2 separate regions of the Homo sapiens genome follow, and region 2 is linked to region 1. Evidence: fine-mapped expression QTL. A gene starts in region 1. The other region holds a variant in brackets. All regions are shown on one strand. Distances are between the middles of the regions. Region 1 holds the start of TMEM86A (transmembrane protein 86A). Region 2 holds the start of IGSF22 (immunoglobulin superfamily member 22).

The links.
Region 2: its variant is fine-mapped to the expression of TMEM86A in whole blood (INTERVAL, PIP above 0.99).

What each region holds. Positions count from the first base shown.
Region 1 is chr11:18,688,715-18,704,687 of GRCh38, forward strand. TMEM86A (transmembrane protein 86A) reads left to right here and starts at 10,065. Exons shown (of 3, transcript NM_153347.3): 1 at 10,065-10,193; 2 at 12,219-12,483; 3 at 12,859-15,973. The coding sequence starts at 10,173. The coding sequence ends at 13,295. IGSF22 (immunoglobulin superfamily member 22) reads right to left here. Exons shown (of 23, transcript NM_173588.4): 23 at 15,598-15,824. The coding sequence ends at 15,754. RefSeq lists an enhancer at 9,772-10,273 and a silencer at 9,867-10,176.
Region 2 is chr11:18,719,939-18,729,430 of GRCh38, forward strand. IGSF22 (immunoglobulin superfamily member 22) reads right to left here and starts at 6,250. Exons shown (of 23, transcript NM_173588.4): 1 at 6,136-6,250; 2 at 4,190-4,331; 3 at 1,972-2,103; 4 at 1,597-1,733; 5 at 248-347; 6 at 126-165. The coding sequence starts at 4,298. It overlaps PTPN5 (protein tyrosine phosphatase non-receptor type 5), which reads right to left. Exons shown (of 15, transcript NM_006906.2): 15 at 7,990-9,089. The coding sequence ends at 8,996. The region is part of intron 2 of IGSF22-AS1 (IGSF22 antisense RNA 1); the gene reads left to right. RefSeq lists an enhancer at 1,693-1,882. The variant T/C (reference allele first, on the strand shown) is at 3,020.

The DNA of each region.
Region 1 (15,973 bases):
AAGTGATCCACCTGCCTTGGCCTCCCAAAGTGCCGGCATTACAGGTGTAAGCCACCACACCCGGCCTAAAAGGCATTATATAATCAGCTGTAGGACTATGACAGATGCTCTTGAATGCAGGTCTCTGATAACTGTGGAAAATGGACCATTAAAATAGAGAGGAAGAAACTTCCAAGACTCTCTTGAAAAACTAATGTGTACATAAATATTGAGCAAAGCAGGGGTTAGTTGCATAGACTGAACTAATACAAGAACAAAAGAATCTTTTTATGACTTTTTGCTTAAAACATTTCTGATCCTTTCTGTTTTTTCAGAGTCAAGAAAACTTTTCTTTTGAGCTATTTGTAGCTTTTAACAAAAATATACTCTTATGAGGAAAATTTGGAGCATACATCTTTCTCTCTACTTGATTGCTCCAGAATTTGAAAACTTTGTGATAATTCTTAACTTATGGCAATATAGTTACTTGCATAAGTGCAATAGGAATCTGCTTTCTTTTATAACAGGACACAATTGGAGACACTGGTTATTTTACCAAGGCTTTGACTGGAATGGCATGCTTTCTGATACAAGCAGACTCCTTTCAGGAATCAAAATTGACTTACAGAGCCAATAAAAGCCCCTTGGGAAAACTGGCCTCATACCTTGTATACACAGTCCCTGTACAGGGTTCCTGACTTGTGGCAAGTAAAGAATGTCACTTTCTGACTGGCCAAGTAGCTCTAAGTTATCTTGGGACCTCAAGAGGTATGAAATTTATCCAACTCATGGAGCTATTTCATGGTACAAACCCATGGCTGGGCTCAAGGCTTTAAAAACTGAGATTCCTTATGGAACAAAGTTCCATCAAAGCCAATTTAAAAAAAAGAGCCTATGTGGGCCGGGCGTGGTGGCTCACGCCTGTAATCCCAGCACTTTGGGAGGCCGAGATGGGTGGATCACGAGGTCAGGAGATTGAGACCATCCTGGCTAACACGGTGAAACCCCGTCTCTACTAAAAATACAAAAAAAACTAGCCGGGCGTGGTAGTGGGTGCCTGTAGTCCCAGCTACTTGGGAAGCTGAGGCAGGAGAATGGCATGAACCTGGGAGGCGGAGCTTGCAGTGAGCTGAGATCGTGCCACTGCACTCCAGCCTGAGGGACGGAGCAAGACTCTGCCTCAAAAAAAAAAAAAAAAAAAAAAAAAAAAAAAAAAAGAGCCTATGTGGCAAATAATTATTCTGGCTGTGCTTTATGCAAATAATCAGGCCAAGTATATACAAGGAAATTGGTCCCATTATGATTTGTTTTTAATAAAAATAGGAGACTAGAGAAAGAAAAAAATATGTTTCCACAACTGTGGTACACCTGTTATTTTTATTTATTTATTTTTGAGATGGAGTTTTGCTCTGTCGCCAGGCTGGAGTAAAGTGGTGCAGTCTCAGCTCACTGCAACCTCCGCCTCCCGAGTTCAAGCAATTCTCCTGCCTCAGCCTCCAGAGTAGCTGGGACTACAGGTGCGTGCCACCACGCCCAGCTAATTTTTGTATTTTTAGTAGAGATGGGGTTTCACCATGTTGGCCAGGATGGTCTCTATCTCTTGACCTTGTGATCCACCTGCCTCATCCTCCCAAAGTTCTGGGATTACAGGCATGAGCCACTACACCTGGCCAGTACACCTGTTATTAAATTCTCATCTCATCAGTTGTTTTTGAGTGTTTTCTGCAATTTAGACTGACCCTGCTTATTCCTGTGAACCAACCAGTGATCTCTGACTGCAGCTCAGAAGAAACAAGAGGGGTCTGGGTGCAGTGGCTCACGCCTGTAATCCCAGCACTTTGGGAGGCCGAGGCGGGCGGACCACGAGTTTAGGAGTTCGAGACTAGCCTGGCCAACATAGTGAAACCCCGTCTCTACGAAAAACACAAAAATTAGCCAGGTGTGGTGGCCCGCACCTGTAGTCCCAGCTACTCAGGAGGCTGAGGCAGGAGAATCACTTGAACCTGGGAAGCGGAGGTTGCAGTGAGCCGAGATTGTGCCATTGTACTCCAGCCTGGGTGACAGAGTGAGAGTCCATCTCAAAAAAAAAAAAAAAAAAAAAAGAAATAAGAGGGATGGGTAATGTCAATCTTTGGATCTAATTCTGGCATGAATCTAATTCTGATTAGAATTAGCTAGCAACTCCATATCAGCTTGGTTCCAACAGTTGCCCAGTTCATGGAAAGCCTTCTTATTTAGTTTACTTGGGATAGTTTTACTTATTTTGCTTTACTATTGTGGAATATATTGCTGTTGTACTCCTTGTGTAGGAATGCAGGATAAGCTTAGTCAACATTTTCTTAAATTGAATACTTATTAATCTTCTAGATTTCACCTTTTGTCGGAACTCAGAGTTATGAATGGCCCTCAGCATACCAGTGCTTTCTGACTGAGCTCCTCTCTACCCTGGATACAAAAGATCCTAATAGAAAGGCAGGAATATCGTCACCCTTATTCAGCCTGAAGAAGCTGCAAAAGATGGATTTTTGTCCCTCTACAACCCTTAGAATTAAGGGTCCACTTATAAAGGGGAGGGGAGAAATATGTCAGGTATTAGAACCAGAGTGACTCAGGCTGGGCACAGTGGCTCACGCTTGTAATCACAGCACTTTGGGAGGCCGAGGCAGGTGGATCACTTGAGGTCAGGAGTTTGAAACTAGCCTGGTCAACATGGTGAAACCCCATCTCTACTAAAAATACAAAAATTAGCTGGGCGTTGTGGTAGATGCTTGTAATCCCAGCTACTCAGGAGGCTGAGGCAGGAGAATCACTTGAGCCCAGGAGGCAGAGGTTGTAGTGAGCCAAGATTGTGCCACTGCACTCCAGCCTGGGCGACAAGAGCGAGACTCTGTCTCAAAAAAATACAAAAACAAAAACAAAAAAAACAACACCAGAGTGACTCCATCTTGATTATGGACTGGGTAAAATAAGGCTGAGACCTACTGGGCTGCATTCCCAGGAGGTCAGACATTCTTAGTCACAAGATGGGATAGGATGTTGACAGGACTGGTATCACAAGATACAGGTCACAAAGACGCTGCTGATAAAACACGATGCAGTAAAGAAGAAAGCCAAAACCCACTGAAACCAAGAGGGCAACAGAAGTGATCTCTGGTTGTCCTCAATGCTCATTATATGCTAATTATAATACATTAGCATGCTAAAAGACATTCCCACCAGGGCCATGACAGTTTACAAATAAATGCCATAGCAATGTCAGGAAGTTACTCTATATGGTCTAAAAGGGGGAGGAACCCTTAGTTCTGGGAAGTGCCTGCCACTTTCCCAGAAAACCCATGAATAATTCCTCCCTTGTTTAACATGTAATCAATAAATAACTATGAGTATACTCAGTTGAGCAGCCCCTGTCACTGCTCTGCCTATGGGGTAGCCATTCTTTTATTCCTTTACTTTCTTTTTCTTTTTCTTTTTTTTTTTTTGAGACGGAGTCTCGCTGTCACCCAAGCTGGAGTGCAGTGGCGGGATCTCTGCTCATTGCAACCTCTGCCCCCCTGGTTCAAGCGATTCTCCTGCCTCAGCCTCCTGAGTAGCTGGGACTACAGGCGTGTGCCATCACGGCCGGCTAATTTTTGTACTTTTAGAAGAGACGGGGTTTCACCATGTTAGCCAGAATGGTCTTGATCTCCTGACCTCGTGATCCGCCCGCCTTGGCCTCCCAAAGTGCTAGGATTACAGGGGTGAGCCATCGCGCCCGGGTTTTTTATTTTTATTTTTATTTTTATTTATTTATTTATTTATTTATTTTTTTGAGATGAAGTCTCATTTTGTTGCCCTGGCTGGAGTGCAGTAGTCTGAGCTTAGCTCACTGCAATCTCTGCCTCCAAGGTTCAAGTGATTCTCCTGCCTCAGCCTCCCAAGTAGCTGGGACTGTAGGCATGCACCACCAAGCCCGGCTAATTTTTCGTATTTTTAGTAGAGACGTGGTTTCACCATGTTGGCCAGGCTAGTATCCAACTCCCGACCTCAAGGGATCTGCCTGCCTTGGCCTCCCAAAGTGCTGGGATTACAGGCATGTAATCCCATGCTTGGTCTATTCCTTTACTTTCTTAATAAACTTGCTTTCACTTTATTCTATGGACTCGCCCAGAATTCTTTCTTCCATGAGGTCCATGAACCCTTTTTGGGGGTCTGGATCAGGATCCCTTTCCAGTAACAAATACGCCAAGGAAAGGAAAGAAGAGTAAGTATCTTGTGGGTAAGGGGCTATGCTGGATATGGTAGATGCATCAGCAAACTTCCTTTCACGCCACCCCTTCCAGGTTTGCTATTTTATAGAAAAGGAAATTGAAACTCAGAGGGTTAAACAATTTGCCAAAGCCACACGGTAGATGAAGAGCCTTAAACCCATGTTTGCCTGGCCCCAAGCCCAGAGGCTAACCGGATAGCCCGGAATGTCCTTAGGGACACTGCTCCACATATTATCTCAGGACAGCATCAATATTTAACCCTCACCAAGGGTCTGGAAGAGAAGTTCTGCTAAAATCTTTGTCCTTTTCTTAAGTGCCTCCAGGAGCGGACTCTGTGTCACTGACCACGTTGGCCACTCCAGGGTTCACCTCCCTGACCCAAGCGGGCTCCAGCATGACAGAGGCCTTCTAGAATGGATTCTAGGCTGCTGATAACTGTAAGCAGAAAGGGCAGAAGGGACCTGGAGGAATGCCTGGGCTGGGGTTGGGTATGTGGAGCCTCCCACAGACCGTGGGCCATGGGGCACACAGTCAGTAATGGTGATGGGTCATGGTCATTTATCTTCAAAGCTTCTGGCCCACCACAATGGGGAAGCAGAACCAGCACCTGCCACCTGTTCCAGAGGCAGGGAACGAAACCACAAAACCCACAGATCATCTGTGAACATACACTTCTCTGGGTGTGTCTGTCTCTTTCCCTGTGAGTATACTTGGAACTAGGTATATCTGGGTGTGCCAGATACATTCTCAGCATATCTATTTATCTGTGTGTTTGTCTTCTTCCTTCTTTTCCTTTTTTCCACCATTCTCTTAAATGTTTGTCCCCAAAGTGCTTGTTCTAGTCCTCTTCTCTACTCCCTCAAGGCTCCTCTCTGGTTCATCACATCCATAGACTTTCAGTATGGTTGAGACTTCCAAATCTTCCCTGTGAGCCTGAGCCCTAGTTTTGTATCCAGTTCCACCCAAACATTCTCCACTAGGCTGACACACACATTCAGCTCACTCCTTACAACTCAACAACTGACGCCCTCACACTGTTATCAGAACATCTGACCTTGTCACACCCTCCTTAACATCTCTGATTTCTTCGACATATCTGCAGGTGGGGTGGGGGTGGAATCGGGTATGTGTGGTGACCCTGAGAGTTGGTTAAAAGTGCTCTGGAGGCTGGGTGCAGTGGCTCACACCTGTAATCCCAGCACTTTGGGAGGCCGAAGCGGGCGGATCATGAGATCAGGAGATCGAGACCATCCTGGCTAACATGGTGAAACCCCATCTCTACTAAAAATACAAAAAGTTAGCTGGATGTGGTGGTGGGCGCCTGTAGTCTCAGCTACTCGGGAGGCTGAGGCAGCAGAATGGCGTGAACTGGAGAGGCGGGGCTTGCAGTGAGCTGAGATTGCGTCACTGCACTCTAGCTTGGGCGACAGAGCGAGACTCTGTCTCAAAAAAAAAAAAAAAAAAAAGTGCTCTGGAGGCCTGAAACAGAAAAGAAATTAGCTGAGATCCAGCATCAGGTTGGGAATAAGATAATCAGTTTAGGGCTGGATTATGATTTCAAGCAGGACAAACTAAGTGAGGAAAAATATCCTGTGGCAAAACAACAGAGGTCAGAGATGAAGGAGGCCACTGGGTGAGAAGAAGCCCCATGGGGGAAGCGAGGCAAGCTCAGAATGATGATGGGTCATCATTTCTGTGCATTGCCCATGTCGCTGGTGGATGACAGCGGGCACAATTAGAGATGCTAAGGAACAGAGGACAATTGGTTTAGTGTCATCTACTATGTCAAGTCTAAACTTCTTAGTAGAACCTTCATTTTTATTTTTATTTATCTATTTATTTTGAGACAGAGTCTTGCTCTTGTTGCCCAGGCTGGAGTGCAGTGGCACAATCTCGGTTCACTGCGACCTCTGCCTCTTGGGTTCAAGCGATTCTCCAAGTAGCTGGGATTGAAGGTGCCCACCACCACACCCAGCTAATTTTTTTTATTTTTAGTAGAGACGGGGTTTCATCATGTTGGCCAGGCTGGTCTTGAACTCCTGACCTCAGGTGATCTGCCCACCTTGGCCTCTGAAAGTGCTGGGATTACAGGCATGAGCCACCGCGCCTGGCTGAGTAGAATCTTCAAGATCTGAGTTGGCTCATGCTTCTTCAGTTTCACCTTCTCACTCCCCAGCTCGAATCAGTACTACAGATATTTCCCTGAATTCAGTGTGTCTCTTGTGCTCTTATGTACACATGCAATTCCCTCTGCCTAGAATGGCATATACATTGGTGTCTGCTCAATAAAGACTAACTCGTTCTTCTAGATTTAACTCTAGCTCCTGCAATTGCTCCAGGTGTAATTTATAATTCTGATGTCTTTTTTTAATGCCACCTGTGACACCTTCATACTTCATTAGGTCAGCTACCACATTGAATAATTGTTTACTTGCCTGTCTGAAATGAACTGTGAGCTCCATAAGGATAGAGAATATATTTTACTCAATATTTTACACCCCAGAACCTAATACAGTGGTTAGCACATATTAGGTGCACTGTAAACATTTGTTGGATGAATGAGTGAGTGAATGGGCTCACAAGCACAGGGAAAATTACAAAGCTGTGTGAAAAGGGCCATGCCAATAGGTTGGAAAGGAAGAAATGCCAGTTCCTACCAAAAGGGAGAAATGCCCATTTTCAGGAAGCCTTATCCCACTTTCTGCCTCCTGCAATATGCAATTCAAAATAAAAACACTAGTAAATAGTAAACACTAGTAAATAGTAAATGAAAATTTACTTTTGAAACAACAAATCTCAACCATATGAATGAAGTCAGAATAAGCTCTTTCTCTTTGGGAAGAGGGTGGTGCCCTTGCTTTGTGGGTGCCTATATCAGCCAGGGTACTGGCACACTCAATAATTTAACTGAAGAGAATTTAATGACTATTTGCAGAGACGAAACTAGCCATGGGTGAGGAGGCACCTAAAGACTAGCAATAGCACTGGGCACAGTAGCTCATGCCTGTAATCCCAGCACTTTGGGAGGCCGAGGCGGGTGGATCACCTGAGGTCAGGAGTTCGAGAGCAGCCTGACCAACATGGTAAAACCCCATCTCTACTAAAAATACAAAATTAGCCGGGCGTGGTGGCACATACCTGTAATCCCAGCTACCAGGGAAGCTGAGGCAGGAGAATCGCTTGAACCCAGGAGGCAGAGGTTGCAGTGAGCATAGATCACACCACTGCATGGCAGCCTGGGGGACAGAGCAAGACCCTGTCTCAAAAAAAAAAAAAAAAAAAAAAGACTAGCAACAGCAGGAAACTGTTGCCACCCCTGGCCTGAAGGTATGGGGAGGGAGCCTGGGGCTGTAGCCATGGAGAAGCAGGCCACAGCCAGAATCTCAGCCTGGTCCATCAGGCCTCGTCCATGTTCTCATCTCCTGCCTCTGAATTTCATTGGCTGAACTCAGCCAGAAGCCAGGGCCCTGGTGATCCCTGAAGATACAGTCCATAGAGCTCAGGCTCCCAGGACAGGGTAGAGAAGAGCCAAGAATGAATCTAGGTGGTGGGAAGGCAAATGGAGAAAAACCGGCATTGAGGGGGGATGCCTCTGCTTTGTAGGCGACTTGTGTATATGATTAGTTTGCCTACTGGGTAATCAAGCACTGAGTGGAACCCTGTAGATGGGAGTTCTAAGTCTCATGTTTTGTATTGTTAGGTATTTGTATGTGCAAGCTTCTTAGAACTGGTGCCACTAATTAGTAGGTCTTGGGTGGGGCAACGGCATCTATGTTTTTAAAAGCTTTCCAAGTAATTTTGATAGGTACCACTTGTTGAGAACCACGGATATAGTCCACCTTCTCATTTTTATAGAGAGGCAAACTAAGGTCTAGAGAAATGAAAAATGCCCTGACTTGGCAAATTTCTGTTTGAGAACTATCCCTCAGGTGATGTTAGAGGGTTTGGCTGGAAAACTGGAATATTTGCACCTTCTACTAGCCCATTTCCTCCATTTTATTCATGAGAAATCTGAAGCTCCAAAGATGGAATGATGTGCTCAATTATACACCACAGTAGTGAGTCATGGAGAAGGAAGCACTAGGACTAAGAATGGCATTTCTAACTCTCAAGCCAGTGTTCTCTCTAGGCAGCACACTTGGTAGAAATGTGTGTGTGTGTGTGTGTGAGTGACAAAGCCCTGGGGCAGCAGTTATAGTCCTTCATTCTGGTAAGGTGCTCTCCCCAAAGCCCCTAACTGGAAAGAAAGAGGAGTAGGCAGAGGTCATTGACCCTTAGAACTCTATGCTGGAGGGGACTGGAGGGGATGGGGGGAAGATCTGGGTGACTCCTGTCCCAAGCCTTGACTCTCACTCTTGTTGTACTGGACTCTGAATCTCTGGTTGCCAATTCTGTCACCAGAAGAGGACTATCACCCCTCTGAATGGGTGTTGGGACTTTAGGGAAAACTGGGTAGGATCCAGAAGGAAAAGGAAGAGACCCATTGTGGGAGGGGCTTACAGGAGACTTCAGCCTGTCGGTCTCTGCCCAAACAGCACAAGGCTCAGGACCAGCACAAGGGCCTGTGTCACCATGCCAGGATGTTTGAAACTCCTTTTTGGCTGCTAATTAGGGCTGGTCACCCCTTTCCCATCAATTCCCAAAGCCTGACACACAGCTACTGCCCTTCTACAGTAGCTTACAGACTACTTGCCCATCCTTTGAGATACAGCTGAAATCTCCATCTCCAGGATTGCTAGACTTAAATTTCCTAAAACCAGCAGCCCTTCCTCTTCCCCAACCTACACATGTCAGAGTTGGGTGGAACCTTAGAACTCACCCGCTCATCTTCTAAGTGAGGAAATCAAGACCAGAGAGGGGAAGTGATTCACCCAATCTAACAGCATGGAAGTGGCAAAACTGGGACTAGATTTCAGTCCATCTGGCCACCTACCTCTCCATGTAATTCCAATGATTCTGAACATGCACCGCTCTGAATGAGCTTGTGTTCCTTTAGTCTACGTAAAATCAACATTAAATCCACTTGGGACGTATTTTTGGCAAAGTTAGCTCACGCTTCTTTGGGTCTGCCTGTCTGTCATTCTTGGGGTGCTCTTGTATGTGTGGCAGTGGTCTCTGAGTTGTAAGAGGTGTGTGCCTACGGCCAATTATCTGTGTTTGTTTCTATATTAGGGTCATGGGTCTACGAGCTGCTGTAGAGTCCCTGTATATGTCTCTTTTCTTACATGGAGCATATATGTCAATTTGTGGTTGTTGGTTTTGGATCTGTGTACTTGTTGAGTGCTTAAGGGTAATTATGATTCTGTATGTGTGATGTATATGCTACGATTATGGGTCCATGGCTGCTGCATACCTATATACGTGCCGCTTTTCAAGTCGAAGGTTGTGTGTTTGCTGATGATTTGGATGTGTGTTTGTACACAGTGAAGGTTGTGAGTCCAATTGCAATCGTATCGGCGTGGACTGCATGTTTAAAGGCTTAAGGGAATCTGTCTTTGCCTTTTGCTCCCGGGTTATGAGAAAATGTATGTGGCTGTGCGTCCAGGACAGCAATGTGTTTGTCTCTCAGCCAAGCTCAGTCCTCACCCAGGCACCGGGGTCACGGTCACGTTCACGTTCCGTGGACGCCTTGGCACGGCCTCCCAAGGGGGCGGGGCCTGGGGGGTATCCGCCTTCTGACCCCTGGGAGATGCCTCCTTTCTCCGAGCAGCAGCCGGGGGCCTGGCCGGCGCCGCCAGCCGGGCCCCGCCCCCCCGGCTCCCGCCCGCTCATTGGCCCTGGCAGCGGTGACGTCACGGGGCTAGCTGACAGAACCCCGGCGCCGGGCGCTCGGGAGGTATTGTCCGTCCCTCCGGGCTTTGTAGAATCGTCGCCGGCTTACCTGGCCGTGGGCGCGTCCTGGCCGCTGCAGCCCGGAGCAGGGTGCCAGCCGCCGCCGCCGCCGCCATGGTGTCCCCGGTCACTGTGGTGAGTGAGCGAGCGAGCGAGCCAGTGCCCGGCGCGGCTGGAGCCCACCGGCCTGGCCACCGGACTTCGGCAGGCCGAGCTGCCGAAGGGGCCGAGGCGGGGCGGGGGTCCCGTGGCGGCCGGAGTCCCGCGGCGGGAGGCGGGCGCTGTCACCGCCCCCCGCTCCTCAGACTCGCGGCGCCCCTCCTCGCGCGCCCCCAGCCCGCCCGCGGAGGGAGGAAAACACTGGCCACGTGACTCGGAAGCGTGACTTTGTTGATCTCCATGTATTTGGCGCGGGTCGGCGGGGTCGCGGCCCGGGAGAGGGAGGGGACCGCTGCCGGCCGCAGAGTTCCGCGTAGGCGGACCACAGGGAGGCGTGGGGGCGGGGGATGCTGGGAGGATAACAGGGACCTCCTGGGAATGCCGTCCCAAGTTTGTTTCCTAACCTTCCTCATTTTGTAAACAAGTTGGCGGACGCCCCTGAGTCTAAGAAGCGCTGATAACGCGCTGGGGGAAAAGGGGGCATTCTCTATGACATCCCCTGCTTTTCAGACTTTCTCAACTTGAACCTTTTGTTTCGTCTCCCCATCCTCCTTATTCTACTACTGGGTTCCCTATAACTGTCAGGGTCTCTCCAGCTACTGCCAGTATCTCCTTCTAGAAAATATGGGGCTGGGAGAGGCCATGGAGCGGAGGTTAATGCTCCCAGGGGCTGGCAGGTGGTTGCTGGGCATTGTGGGCCTGGGCATCCCCTCCAGCCGCCTCCTCTGACCATGCCCCTACCCTGACCAGCCTTAATTTCCATGGGAAGTGGAAGTCATCTCTTCTCACTGCTCTTACCTCTGGCAGAACAAGGAAAGGCTTGGACCCTGGAACCACCCATCCGCCTCTTCCCAATCCTCCTCATCACAGTCTGATCAGTCCTTAGGTACCTGGTCGTCTGGACTCTGAGTGTTTCCCAAGTCCTGTGCTGGGCAGCTCACCTAGCCAGAGACACAATCGCTTTGGGCAGAGTGTGGGTGTACAGGGAACTCCAGCTGCTCCATATCACCCTCAATGGATCTGTTAGCAGCCCAAGGAAAGGAGTTTCAAGGATCACAGATTCAGAACATCGCTGCAGCCCCCTCCCCCAGCTTGGACTCTGCCTGCAGTGGCCTTGGGTACAACCTTTCTTTAGCTGCCCTCTGCTAATCCGGCTGAGACCAAGTCAGCTGCTCTAACTTCCCCCTCTCAGTTCCCCATCTCCCAGCCTGTCTGCTGGCTCCAGATCAGAAGCTGGGAATAGAACCTCTCCCCCCTTTCCTGCCTCTTTCTGGTGTGGCTTGAGTTGCTCTTGTTCTCTGGGAAATGAGGCTGACTGACACACACCCTCCCTTCCCCCAATCCTTGAAATCTTTGGTGTTTGAAGGACAATTTTCTTGCTCCCAACTCATGGGTCCATTTATCTAGCCAGCATCCCTAGCATAGCCCTCCTTGCCCTTGATGCCACCTTCAGGCTGGGGCAGGTGGAGTGGAGGCTGAGGAACAGACTGGTTGAGGAGGAGAGAGGCTGTGGTGGCTGAGGTGATTGCCATTGCCTGCTTTCCCACATTCCTGGCACACACCTGGTGTTGCCAGGGCCCTAAGGCTGCACCCTGGCCCCATGCTGAGGATCACGAGTTGGCCAGTCAGGGTGTCTCTGTGGTTTCCCACTGACTTCACTCCATTCCAGAGTGAACAGCTGGGGGCTGTTGCTGGCAGAGAGGAGGGGCTAAAGGGGCCCTGAGGAGGGAGAAGGAGGGGGCAGGAAGGGAGAAGCACACTAGGCTGCAGAAGGGTGCCCCTCCTAATATACTGAGCCTCAGGGCAGTAATGGGTTTGGCCACAACCTGCTGGCTGGTAGAGGCAGGCCAGGCTGGGTTTCTCTGTGTCAGTCTTCTCAGGTTGGGGGTGGAAGTGAGGTGGGGGTATGGATGGGAGTGTCTCTGGGGTGGATGCCTAGGCTGAGGGTGCTGGCTTTCAACCCCCAAGTTCTGAGTGCTGCCCTTGTCCTGTGTCCTCCAGGTGAAGAGTGAAGGACCCAAACTGGTGCCGTTCTTCAAGGCCACCTGCGTGTATTTTGTGCTCTGGCTGCCCTCATCTAGCCCATCGTGGGTCAGCACCCTCATCAAGTGCCTGCCTATCTTCTGCCTCTGGCTCTTCCTTCTGGCCCATGGCCTGGGATTCCTGCTGGCCCACCCCAGCGCCACCCGCATCTTTGTGGGGCTTGTCTTCTCTGCTGTAGGTGACGCCTTCCTCATCTGGCAGGACCAAGGATACTTCGTGCATGGTCAGTGGCCATAGTAGTTGCCTGGGAGGAGTCCTGGGGCTGGGGGATAGAGGGTCCTGGGCTGTGGGCAAAGATTTGGAAGAGGGAGTTCTTGAACCAGAGTGTGGGGAGCCTGAGGGTTTCTGAGGCCAGGGACTGTGAGGGTCCTTGTTAGGGGATGACCTCGCAGGGGAACTAGTGATCAGTTCCAGAGTCCTTCAGGGGACTGGGGTGGTGGTCTTTAACTTTAGATCTTCCTACCCCTGTTATCCCAAAGCAAAGCTGCTGGGTTATCCCAAACACTCCACTCCATCGCCACATCCATCCCTACCCCCACCCTGTTACTCATTCTTCATCAAGCTTGCCCTCAGCTGCCTTTGCCCCTCTTACCCCCAGGTCTGCTGATGTTTGCTGTGACCCACATGTTCTACGCCTCGGCCTTTGGCATGCAGCCACTGGCTCTTCGGACAGGTCTGGTGATGGCAGCGCTGTCGGGCCTGTGCTATGCCCTCCTCTACCCATGCCTCTCAGGTGCCTTCACCTACCTGGTGGGGGTCTATGTGGCCCTTATCGGCTTCATGGGCTGGCGAGCTATGGCAGGGCTGCGGCTGGCCGGGGCAGACTGGCGCTGGACAGAGCTGGCAGCTGGCAGTGGTGCACTCTTCTTTATCATCTCAGACCTGACCATCGCCCTCAACAAATTCTGTTTTCCTGTGCCCTACTCTCGGGCGCTTATCATGTCCACCTACTATGTGGCCCAGATGCTCGTCGCCTTGTCAGCTGTCGAAAGCCGGGAGCCTGTGGAACACTACAGACTGACCAAGGCCAACTGAGGTGCCAGGGTCTGGTCACCCCTCTCTCCTCCTGGGGCTGGGGCCCAGATCCTGGGGACCTGCAGGAGCTGGATCAGGATGGCTGCAGTGCCAGCCTGGGGCAGCAGGTACTGCCTGAGGAATTTGCAAGTTCGTGTGGGGAGGCTGGAAAAGGATCTCCCTAGCAGAACTCGTGGTTCAGGACAATGCTGAGAGCTAAAAGAGCCAGCCTAATATCAGACTGGAGCCAGAAGTAGACATCTCCCCACCTCTACCCTATCAGGACTTTCAAAACCCCCCTGGAAGGTGATGGTGCTCAGCTTCTTGACACCCCCCCACCCACTTCCCCTACCAGGTGGAAGAGTCTGACTCCATGTGTTATGCCTAGGACCAATGGCAGTGCTGGGTTCACCCACTCCTCCCCTTTTTCATCTGCACAAAGTTGAGGGAAACGGGAGAATCTGTGCTGAGAAGACTCAGACCCAGGAGCCCCTTTCACAGGCCCCTAGTTGGGAAGACTGGATGAGAGTGGAGCCTCCGTTTCTTTTCCCTCTTCTATCCTTGTTACTTGAACAATCTCAGTCTCTAAGTGGTGGGTGGGGACATGAAGAGGTGTGGGTCCAGGTTAGGCAGGAGAGAGAACTTCTTTGGTCTCGGAGTTTGGGGTCTCAAGAATTCAAGTAGCCCCATCTCTCTCTCGGGCAAGCCCAAAGCTCAGGTCCCATACGCTACCCTTAGATCCTATCCCCAGGGCTAGGGTGAACCATGCCAAAGGAAGGGGCCAGCTTCTCTGTGTGTGTGTGTAGCCTGTCTCCTAGTCTGCCTATGTCTTTCTCTGCTATATGTTTCTGTCCTGCTGTCTGTCAAAAGTCTCACAGAGAGAGGGCCTCAGGGAGCTGCTGAGGGGTGCTGAGCCTGGCTCAGGGAGCTGGGACCCCTCCCCTCCAACACACATACTCACAGTGCTTTCCTCCTTGTCCCTCCTACACTAGGAGCAAGAGGAGGGGGCTCCAATGACACTCCGGGGTTTTAAGACCCAAGGCACATTCAATGCAAGGGGAGCAAGGATGGGACAACTCCATCTTCTGCTGCCCATGTGAAAAATAATAAAAATCAAGAGCCATTGGCTGCCCTGCTTGTGGGCCTGTGTGGCACATGCCTATCTTGGAGAGGGCATGGGGGCATGGTGCCAGAGGCTCTGGCTGTCCTCACAGCCTAGTCACAGTCCTGGGCAGTGCATCTTGGTGCCAGGCTGGCTACCTGGCTCTGGTGACACTGTGCCGGTTGGAGTGTGTCTCACTTCCCTGGTGTGGGTGAGGATGTGGTTTAGGAGGATGGGGGATGAGTGGTATTTGCCACTGTCCAAATTTGTCCTTGATGTACTCCCCTGTGCACAGGTGCCCAGCACCCTTGGTGACCTTTAGTTACCCAGTGTCATCTATTGCTGCCCACCTCCTCCCCTCCCCACTTGAGACCTGCTGCTTCCTTCAAAATGATCCAGATTCCCTTCAAGCATCTCCCTCATCCTGGACTCTGGGCTTAGTTGAACAGCTGGGAGCAATGGGATTAGATTGGCTGATTCATTCATTAGTTGTAAAGCCCTGGCAGAATAATACATCACTCTGCTCCAGGAGCATTTGTAACTTAACAGACAATGCCCTAACCCAGAAGTAGAAAGGGAAGCCTTGGGTGGTGGTGGATATGCCATCAGTAGAGGTGTTGCTCATTTGTGGGGATGTGATTTAGGAGACTCAAGTCTCAGGGGTGGTTGGATGAGTCAGTGATTTCCAAATTAGTTTTTACAGAGATTCCTGGTAAGGGGGTAGTGAAGGAATAATGAGAGAAGGCAGGCTCAAAGACCTCCTATCCTTATTTCAAGTCCAGTAGCTTCTTAGGTTGTGTTTTTTTTTGTTTTGTTTTGTTTTGGAAGGATTCCACTGAAAAACGTAAGTTTGAAACTTAGTGAGCTGGATGATCAATCCCTTCTAGCTCTGAACCCTGGACACTAAAGAGGGAAGATCTTGATCCTTTCAAACTTCAGAACTCTGAACACAGACCTACCTAGTGTGAAGAAATGGGAGGGAGCAGGATGGAGAGCAGGATGAAGTCAGCAGGACTTGCCCCCAAGCTCTGAGGGGAGGGGGAAAGTGCCATGTAGATGTGGAGGAGGGGAAGGGAAGACCAGGCCCAGTCACAAGAAGGCTGGTCACTGCCTTGTGGGTGGGTTTGGACTAGGCTTTCAGGGGTCCAGGTCTGGGATTCCCTATCATGCAATCACATCCATCCCCTTGGTCCCTGCTGTATATCACCCTCAGGAACGGGAAAGGATGAGTTACGTTTATTGCCCCATCCCTTCACTGAATGTTTACATTAACAAACACCAGAGAGCAAACTGGGCTTCCTACACTGGGCCATGCAGAGGACAGGCCAAGAAACTCCACATCATAACAGCCTCCTGATGCCTGGGCTTGGCTGGAGCTCACATGAGGTGCTTTGATTTCTTCTGCAGACTCTCGGTGATGGATGCTACAACTGACTTATCATCTTTGTCTGAAAGAGCAAAGGAAGTATTCGTTATATTAATGATGCTGGCGACCAGGGAAATTCCAAACTGCTGGACTTCCTATGCAGGAAACCAGGAGCTGGACCCTGGGACCCTTAATCTTGGGTTGGCAGAGTGTGAAGGGGCAAGAGCTGCC
Region 2 (9,492 bases), 28 kb after region 1:
AACCTTGAGAAACCCCTCCCTACTCCATGGATTCTTGGAACTCAGGGCCTTGTTGAGAGGCCTTTGAGAGGCTTTGGCCTGGATGAGGAGACAATATCTTGGGCAGAAGGACCTGCCAGCCTCACCTCTTCTTCAGCATCTTTTTGAAGTCCATTTTCTCTTGACCTGAGGATAGACAGAGGGACAGGTTCAGACAGGGGGAGTCTGGTCCCTAAGAAGAAAGGCCAAGAGGAAGGGGCCAACTCACCTTCTGTTACCAGCAGAGATACGGTATAGATGGCATCTGCATGGTCATTGCTTGCAATGCACTTATAGTTGTCAGAGTCATCCGAAGTCAGTGGCTCCAGCTGGATCAAAGTCCGGCCATTAGTGGGGGAAGGAAAAGGAACCACAGGGAGACTTTCTGTCAGATAAGGTAGGAGGCCTTTTTTTTTTTTAGGGGACAATAGGAACTGACTGTTGGGTATATGTGTGGAGGATTGAGCAGCCTGTATGATTTGGAGGTACCAGCTAGCAGTCAGTGTGAGTATGCATGTTTGTAGCCTGATTCCATAGCAATAAAACTGTCTGCTTCTCCATCGGACTCTCCCCCTTGGCTGTGAGCTCCCAGAAGGCAGGGCTTCCCCTGCCTTGTAACTCTATCTGCAGTTTCTGGCATCATCTGGCTGAGACTTCATTTAATACAATTTACTCCTCTGTACCAGACACTGGGCTGAGCCCCAGAAGGAACAGTGGTGAGTAAGGCTGACTTGATGCCCGTCTGCATGGTGCTTGCAGAAGCCTGCTAGGCTCTCAGAAGCCAAGGCTCTCAGAAAGTGTCTGCTGAATGAATGAGCTTGTGTAAGAGGTGGCCATCAGGGGGACTGGGGCAGCTCGTGTGTGCTGTGGGGGGCTTAGGGTCCAGTGATGATGGGTCTTTGGGAGCAGACTACTTCTGTCTGTGGGGAAAAAAGGAGGCTCTTTGCCTTTCACAACGGGAAATCGGGTCAGGACCCGAGTGATTATAGGATCATAAGTAATTATAGGCCTAGATCTCCCCGTGATCCATCCCTCCCTTTCCTCGAAGGGCCTGGAGCCAGGGGTTACAGCTGGGTAGGCCCAGCTCTCAGAAAGTGATCCAGAAGCTGGTTAGACCTAAGGATGGTCGGTCCTTGGGGAGGGTTCAGCTGAAGAGCCCGGAGCCCCTGACCCTCACCCCTACTCTACGGCGAGTCCCTCCGGCACCTCGCCACCCACAATGGTCCCGCCCTCCATGGCTACGCCCACCGTCTTGGTCCCGCGTTCCTTTTGGCTCACTCGCCTTGTGGACACGCCCCTTCGCTTCCATTGCGTCCCGCCCCGCCACGTTCTGGCTCTGCCCCTGCTCTGCTCTGCCCCGGGGGTACTTTGGGTCCTCTGCTCATTCCGGCAATATCCCGGTTCCTGACTCGGCCTCTCTTATCCTGCCGCGCCTCTCGGGCAATGACAGCTGCTTTTCCCACTGCCCGGCTCTCGGGCCGCCGTTAAGGCTCTCATCGGTGAGAAGACTGGCGGCCCGCCCTGGGGGTCCCTGCCTCTGGCCTTCTCGGTAACTGGACTTGGGCTTGGCCCCCGCACCTTCAGCACGTGTTCCTTGTTAATGCTGTCGTAGAATATCTTGGCGGACTCCTTGATGGGGATGCCGCTCTCCCTCTTCCAGGAGATGTGGGGTTTGGCGTTCCCCTGCACCCGGGCTCGGAACACGGCTTTGTCCCCTGCGATGAGCACAGGACGCGTTTTCGCCTCTTAGCCACCAGGCTAGAGCCTCTGCCACCCTCTGCCGGCTCTCTGCCTCCTCCCAGACACCTGGGCCTGGCCCCGGGCAGGGGAGGAACCCTCGGCCAGGCTCTGCCAGGGTTTAGCATTGGAGGTCGTTGGGGTAGGACGGAGGGTGGGGGCACTCGATTAGAAAGCGAAGCACTGGAGCCCGGTGAGCCACAGGCAGCAACACACCCTCGGGCGCGGTGACCGGTTGAGGCTTCTCCACGAACTCAGGGACGCTGTCGCCCGCAGGGATGTTTGAGCTCCGGGTCACTAAGCTGAAGAACTCCACTATGCTCGAGGACTTCCTCCTCACGACCTCCTCTGTGGGGGCAGGCGAGAGGTCAGAATGGGCTCCAGGTAGAAGCCCAGCTCGCGATGGGAGGACAGAGCTTTCTTGAGAGGACGGTGGAGCATGGGAACAAAGAGCATTTAGGGAAGTGGGAGCAGGACCAGCTACATGGGGAGAAAGCAGGGTGAGTCGATGGGCCATTGTGTTATGGCAAGTTTCAACCACTAGGGGAGGCGAACTCCTTTCCCACACCTCAGTGGTCCATTACCTTTATGGGGCCACAGCCCTGAGTCCTAATTTTTTTTTTTAAAGGAGGCTTCTCTTTTGGAATTTTCTTGGTCTCTTAGGCTTCTCTCCTGGAAGTCCTGGTCCCCCAGTAGCATTAAGAGGGGCTAGGCCTGCTTCTGCCTGGGAGGTCTGCAGCTTGGCTGAGCTCTGCTCTAGATTTTCTCCCTGCCATTCTGTGGGTTCAGCATTCATTGCCTTGGGAGTAGTGATTCTTGAGTGAGGGACAGGACACGACACAGTCCCACTCCAGTGGAGCTATATATGGGAATATCCTTATCTGAAAGCACATCTTCAATGTGGAAATATAATTTTATATTTGGAAAACAAAAAAAACTGTTTTTGCAGTATAAAACTACAGACAATCTTCTTGGCTGGTGAGTTATCAATTCACAACAATTGCTCTGAATCATGGAACACTTTCCTTGAGTCAGGAACTGTGCTAGGCACATATCAGAGATGATTTTATTCCATCTTCACAGCATCCCACTGAAGTAGGTGCCTTTATTATCCCACTAATCTGACAGAGGGGGAAAAGTGTGTTAAGAAGCTCTCATGGCCTGCTTTTAAATACTAACAAGAGGTCTCAAACAGGCAGAGTGCAGTGGACACCTGGCCTGCAGATGTCTTTTATGTGACCTCCACAATGTTTAAACAAAAAAG[T/C]AGCCCTACATCTGAAAGAGAAAGATTTCACATAAAAATTCAGATTTCTGGATTCTCAACACTGAACCTGTATTCCCATATGGCAACAGTCAGTGGGAGGTGAATAGTGGCTGCCCCTTTAGATGGGATATACAGTCTCTAGTTTACCCCAGTCTTTTCCCCACATTTATGTTCCCTGCCTGGGCCCTGTTGGTCAGTGGTCTACAGCTTTGGCTGCACATATATAATCCATGGAGAACTTTATAAGAAATACCTGATTGAATGGTCTGGGGTGAGACTCAGGTACTGCCATATTTTTGCCCTCCTCACACCCCCTGCACTAAGGTGACTCTGATGTGCGGCCACAGCAGAGAATCACTGCTGTAAATCACTTGAGTTTGGAACTTCTGGTCTAGACCATAGGCCTTGAGTCCCAGCTGTTCCACTTGCTCTGCCTCACTGGCCAGGAGGTGTTGGTTGGTATAGAGTGTTTATCTGGCCTTGACCTCTGTGCACGGAGGACTTTGAGGGACTCTATCCCTTTGAGGCTTTGAGGGAGGGGCAATGACTGTGAGAAGGGGTATCCAATGTCTTGGCCCCCGGCCATCTTTTAATCTCTTTCCACTAGAGACGTGACTAAAACACTCTGTTCAGCTCTGAGACCATTTCTCAGCTTTCCCTTGGATCTGCCCTCTTCCAAGTCTGGCCCCAGAGGGCTAAAAGCCTGGAAGGTAAGGTCACCTTCTTGTTTATGTGTTCACCTTCTTTCTCCACTGGTAGCCCCAAGTCTCCTATTTCTTAAGTGGAGCAGGGTCAGCATTACTGATATGTAGATAAGGTGGCTACCTTCCTAATTTCCCCTATGCCTGAAATTCTACCTTTGGAGATAGAATCTGTTCACCTATGGCTCTGATCTCCTTCAGCAATTAAGAGTTTATCAATCATTCACACACATCCACATGATTGATCTTTTCTAAGCTGTTTTCCTGGAGATCTGATCTGTGTTGAACATCCAGCTGGCTGAAGCTTTAACAAAGCCAAGATTAGAAGCACACGTTGGGTGGGGGTTGCTGTTGGTATTGTGGGCTCCAGAGGGGCCCATTAGTGGCAAAACTGGGGCCACCCAAGGGATGGGTGTGGAGGAAGAATAGCTGCCCTTCCCGATCCCTTCCCTGCCCCCATTCCACTTGCCTCCCACGATCTTGGTTGTCTGGGAGAAGGTCTGCACGTGGGTGGTGGAGCTGGAGAACTCCATGGACACGTGCTCCTGCAGCATCTGCCGGCTGTGAATGGTTGTCATGGTGACAGCAGGCGTGGGCACTCACCTGTGAGACTGGGGAAGAGGATGAGGCCATGAAGGACAAGACAGGGAGTAGGAGGGAGATTCAGAGATGTTATGTGTGTGTTCAGACATAAGAGGAGATGGAAGCACACAGGAGAGGGCCAGGAGAGCAGTCGAGCTCTCTTTTCTTCATTTCCTAGCTTCCTTTTCCTGGTTAGTTACCAGACCCAATAGGCCTGTCCTCTCACTGAGTAACTCCAAACTATTCCAGGGTCTCAGAGGGAGAGGTTATAGGGCTTAGACTTACCCAGCCAACCAAGTAAGGCCTGGAGGGAGTTGAGGATACCTATTGATAGCTACATGGCACTAAGGAGGCAGTGCTGGATGTTTCATCAGGAGGGAATGCAGTCAGACCTAAGAAAGAACTTCCTGACTAAGCCATACTGGAGTGGGCTTTAGAAGGAAGCTGTGTCTCTTATTCCTGGGCCCTGGGGACCCCGGCACTGGTGGAATGCTAAAACAGATGACAAAACATCACTACAATTCTGCTTGTGTTTGCGACATGGTAAAGGCAAAGGTTTAGTTTTTCTTACATTTTTCTTTGAACTGGTAATTCAATCACATAGTTAAAGAATAAAACAATATAAAAATCCATATGGACAGGCTCCCTCCCACTCCTGCGTCTATCTTACAACCTTCCCCATTGCAACAGGTAGCCAGTCTCTAGGCTCCTTCTAGACCTCCATCATGCAAATAGGAAAACTCATGTGTTCTTATCATCTTCCTTTTTTTTTTTTAATTAAAAAAGCACATAAGGTAGCCCATTATACACACTATTCTGACCCTTTCTTTTTTCATTTAATGTGTCTTGGAGATTTTTTCCATACCAGATGATAGCGTTTCCTCATTCCTGTTCAGAGCACCATGTTTTCTCAATGTTTTATTTAACCAGCATTGCGGTTTTTTTTGGGTGATCTCGGCTCATTGCAACCTCCTCCTCTCGAATTCAAGCCATTCTCCTGCCTCAGCCTCCCCAGCAGCTGGGTTTACAGGCACGTGCCACCATGCCCAGCTAATTTTTGTGTTTTCAGTAGAGACAGGGTTTCATCTTGTTGGCCAGGCTGGTCTCAAACTCCTAGCCTCGATTGATCCGCCTGCCTTGGCCTCCCAAAGTGCTGGGATTATAGGTGTGAGCCACTGCATGTGGCCAGCATTGCAGTTTTTTTGTTTTTGTTTTTTTGAGACAGAGTCTTGCTCTGTTGCCCAGGCTGGAGTGCAGTGGCACGATCTTGGCCCACGACAACCTCTGCCTCCCAGGTTCAAGCAATTCTCCTGCCTCAGGCTCCCGAGTAGCTGGGACTACAGGCACCCGCCATCACACCCGGCTAATTTTTTGTATTTTTAGTACAGATGGCGTTTCACTATGTTGGCCAGGCTAGTCTCGAATACCTGACCTCGTGATCCGCCCACCTCAGCCTCCCAAAGTGCTAGGATTACAGGCGTGAGCCACCGCGCCTGGCCCAGCATTGCAGTTTTTAAAGTCCTATTTCGTATATGAGGAAACTGATGTCTGAAAGAAATGACCTGTCCAAGGTCACTCAGACTAGACTCCTAGCTTTTGACTCCAGTCCAGTGGCGTCCCAGAGGGCTCCAAAGCCTTCTTTAACCCAGGTAGTTAGGGGTTAAACTCTATTCCCTCTCTCCACCCCCTAATATATCTCTGCCTGGGCTGCTTCTACCTTTGGGTTCTGAGACTACTCCCCTGTTCCTATTCCTGCCCTCTACCCTATAGTCCCCTCTGGGCTCAGAAGGTGGTCAGCTTTGTCCCCTTCCTGAGGGAGGAGGGGAGCCTTACCTTCAGCACTGACCAGTCCCTCCCAACACTCGAATGCTGTGTCCACGGCTTTGGAGGCTCAGCTAGTGCCTGGACTGTAGGGTGGCCCGTCTCCTTCTTCCTTTGCCCCAACAGTGAGGCTACCAGTGTCATCTGTTCCTTAAATGTCTGGCCCCCTGGGGGCGATTCCTTAGTCAGGCTCTGCAGCTGTCTCAGCTAGATGGCACACTGCTTGGTTGTGGGGGGAGGGGGAGGGCGGTGGAGAAGGGAGGCGGGAAGCAAAGCTGGATCCAGGCTGGGGGAAACACTGAAGGCCAGGCGGGAAGGAGGCTGAGGGTGGCAGTCCAGGGGTACTTTTTTTGTTCCCTTGTGGTACAGGTTTTGGCTCTCACTGCTGCTGGGTAGGACCTCTCTGAGCTGAGGGGCTCAGGGTAGTGTGTGTGCACAGGCACACACTCAGGTACAGGTGCATGCATAGTCCAGCAGGGCTCAGGGAGCAAAGCAACAGGTCTGTATTTTCCAGGGACTGGGACACGGTGAACTGGGGAGGGCCTCTGGGATCTGCTGCGTTGCTACACAAATCCAGGGGTTCCCATTCATGTTGCACTCCTATGTGTGGTTCATACACAGCCTGAGTATCTTTACAAGGCCACCCTGGGGAAGAACAGGGAAATGTTAGGTCTCCTTCCTCTTCCCACTTCAACAGCCCAATCTCCCTAATCTGGGTAGAAGAGTAGGAGGGCCCATCCTCCGGGGGTTGTGGGGAGGTCTCTGCTTGAGGGTGACTGGAGAGTATGGCCACCTCTTCTCAAGGACTTCCATCTGGGCTGCTTCAGCCACCTGTTGTTTTCTTTTCTTTTCTTTTTTTTGAGATGGAGTCTCTGTCACCCAGACTGGATGCAGTGGCACGATCTTGGCTCACTGCAACCTCTGCCTCCCAGGTTCAAGCGATTCTCCTGCCTCAGCCTCCTGAGTATCTGGGATTACAGGCGTGCACCGCTACGCCCGGCTAATTTTTGTATTTTTAGTAGAGATGGGGTTTCACCATGTTGGTCAGGCTGGTCTCGAACTCCTGACCTCATGATCTGCCACCCCTCGGCCTCCCAATGTGCTGGGATTACAGGCGTGAGCCACCGTGTCCAGCCCACCCTGTTGTTTTCTCATCATCTGTAGCACACCCCGCATGCCTGGACCCTGGATCCCACCCAAGGTTCTGGCACCTTGTAAGGACTTGTTGGTCAGCACCCTTGCCCTGGACCCCTCCTTCTGCCCTGGGGTGACCCCCACCTGCCAGCAGTGGCATCATGGCTACTTTTGCTCCATCCCAGGGGGGCAGGGGACAAGAATAGAGCAGGAGTGTCCAGGATGGCTCAGGATCTCAGCCCACATGCAGATTCCCTGGGCCCCTTGGGAGGAGCTACTCTGAGCCCAGGCCTTACAAGGGAAATTACTGGGCTGCAGCTGCTGTTGGGATCTGTGGAGCTAACATGGGATAAGAGTTTGGCCAACAGGGAGGGGCCTGGGTGTGACCTGAATGTCTCCTTACCCTAGCCTTGGCTTCTCTGGCACATCTGTTGGAAATGGTGACCTGCCAGCCACTGTGCCTTCCCTGGAAGCCTTCCACACCTGTCCTTGAGGCTCCCCATGGCCCAGAGCATGTGTCAGGGCCAGGGCTGAGGCTGTGTGAGAATCCTGCAGAATGTTCCCAGTTTGGCTTTACAAATTTGGACTCGCTCCATACTCCCAGTCTCCACAAGGGGCTCCAGTGAGCAGAAGGGCCAAGCTCACTGTGCTCATGCTGGGGAGGGGCACAAAGACCCAAGTACAGGAAGGAAGGCAGTGGAGGGGAGAGGCAAATCACACAGACCCAGGAGGTTAGTTTTGCTCAAAATGCTCCGTTTATTGCTCTATTCAATGACCACGAGCGAATTATAAAAAGACACCAAATGTCTCTGTCTGCCGTGGGATAAATATTTAAAGTCAGCAATAAAAACACGTGGCTCCAAGATAATACATGTTGCCAAAGAGTCATGCATGCCCTCCTGATGGGCTCTCAACACACGCATGGACATGGGAACACACGCAGAGCAACACGCAGTGAGACTTCTGGGAAGGCTTTCCCACAGTGACACAGAAAAATGTCTCACGTAGATCTGGGCTGAGTCCCCACCCAAACCTTGAGCTCCCCTCCCCTCCCCAACAGGGCCTAGATCCTCTGGGTTCTCCATGCCCCATCTGCCCCCTACCTTGCCAGTGCCTCACAGGCTGGGCACCCTCCTGAGAGCATCTGACACCCAGAGGCCACCCTGGCTGTGATGCCCACTCCAACCTAGAGAACTCTCCCTCAGCTGAAAGCTCTCTGGTGACCTTCTGGAGCTCCCCATGCCTAACTCCCCGTCATCTGCCTTTTGGGAGAAGTGCGGGTGAGGCCGAGGCAGGCAAGTCCGGTTGCTTAGGGGCTGGAGCTCATTACCCCTTCCTGGCTGAGGAGACACAGTGTCCGGTACAGAGGGCAGAGATGGATGGACAGACAGAACACATTGCAGCAGGACACAAAGTGTAGCACGGAAACATTCTGGATCAGGTATTGATGGAACCATCGTTAAAAACTGGAGCCCGGGGTCTGCGTGGTGTGGGTCAGGCCCCGGGGCCCCAGGCCTGGCCTGGCATGTCCCTTCCCGACCCTGCCCCCCACTCCCCAATATGTACAGTAGGAAGAGCAATGCTGGAGGGTAGGGGTCAGGCCAGGCTGACAGAGGACAGAGGGAGCTGACTGAAGGGGAGGAAGCGGGGAGCAGGCCCAGGACCCGAGGCAGGGCCCTGGGTGAGGGCCGAGACTCAGGCTGGGCAGTGCCCAGAGAACCTTGTAGGAGAAGCGCAGTCATTCTGGGGACTGGTGGGACAGCTGCTTTTCGTAGAGGCTCATGACGTGGTGCACAAACTGGTACTGCTCGCATGTCTGGATCATGCCGCCCCTGCCCGGCAGAGATGCACAGTGGGGGCAGGGTCGTGGAGGGATGGGCTGTGGGAGGTGCCCCAAAAGCCATGGAGTAGCAATCACTTGCCAGGCCTTGCCCCTGTGCGTCTTGGAGAGACCAACCCTTGCCAACCATTACCCTCTGCCCCTTCCTATCAGGGACACAGATGACATGTCCTACCACTTTCGGCCTCTGTCCTTTTATCCACCAGCTCTGCTTTTCTTCCCTCTTCATCTGGCCCCCCACTGTCTGGATCCTGCCCCTCTACCCAGCTGTCCTCGCTACTCCTTGTCTGCCCATCAGTCCGTGCCAGTGTTTTCCATCTGCCCCTCACCCCCCGCCCATGCACATGTGGGTCTCTCCCTCTACCCGCTCGGGGCTCTAGCTCCCTTGTGTGTCC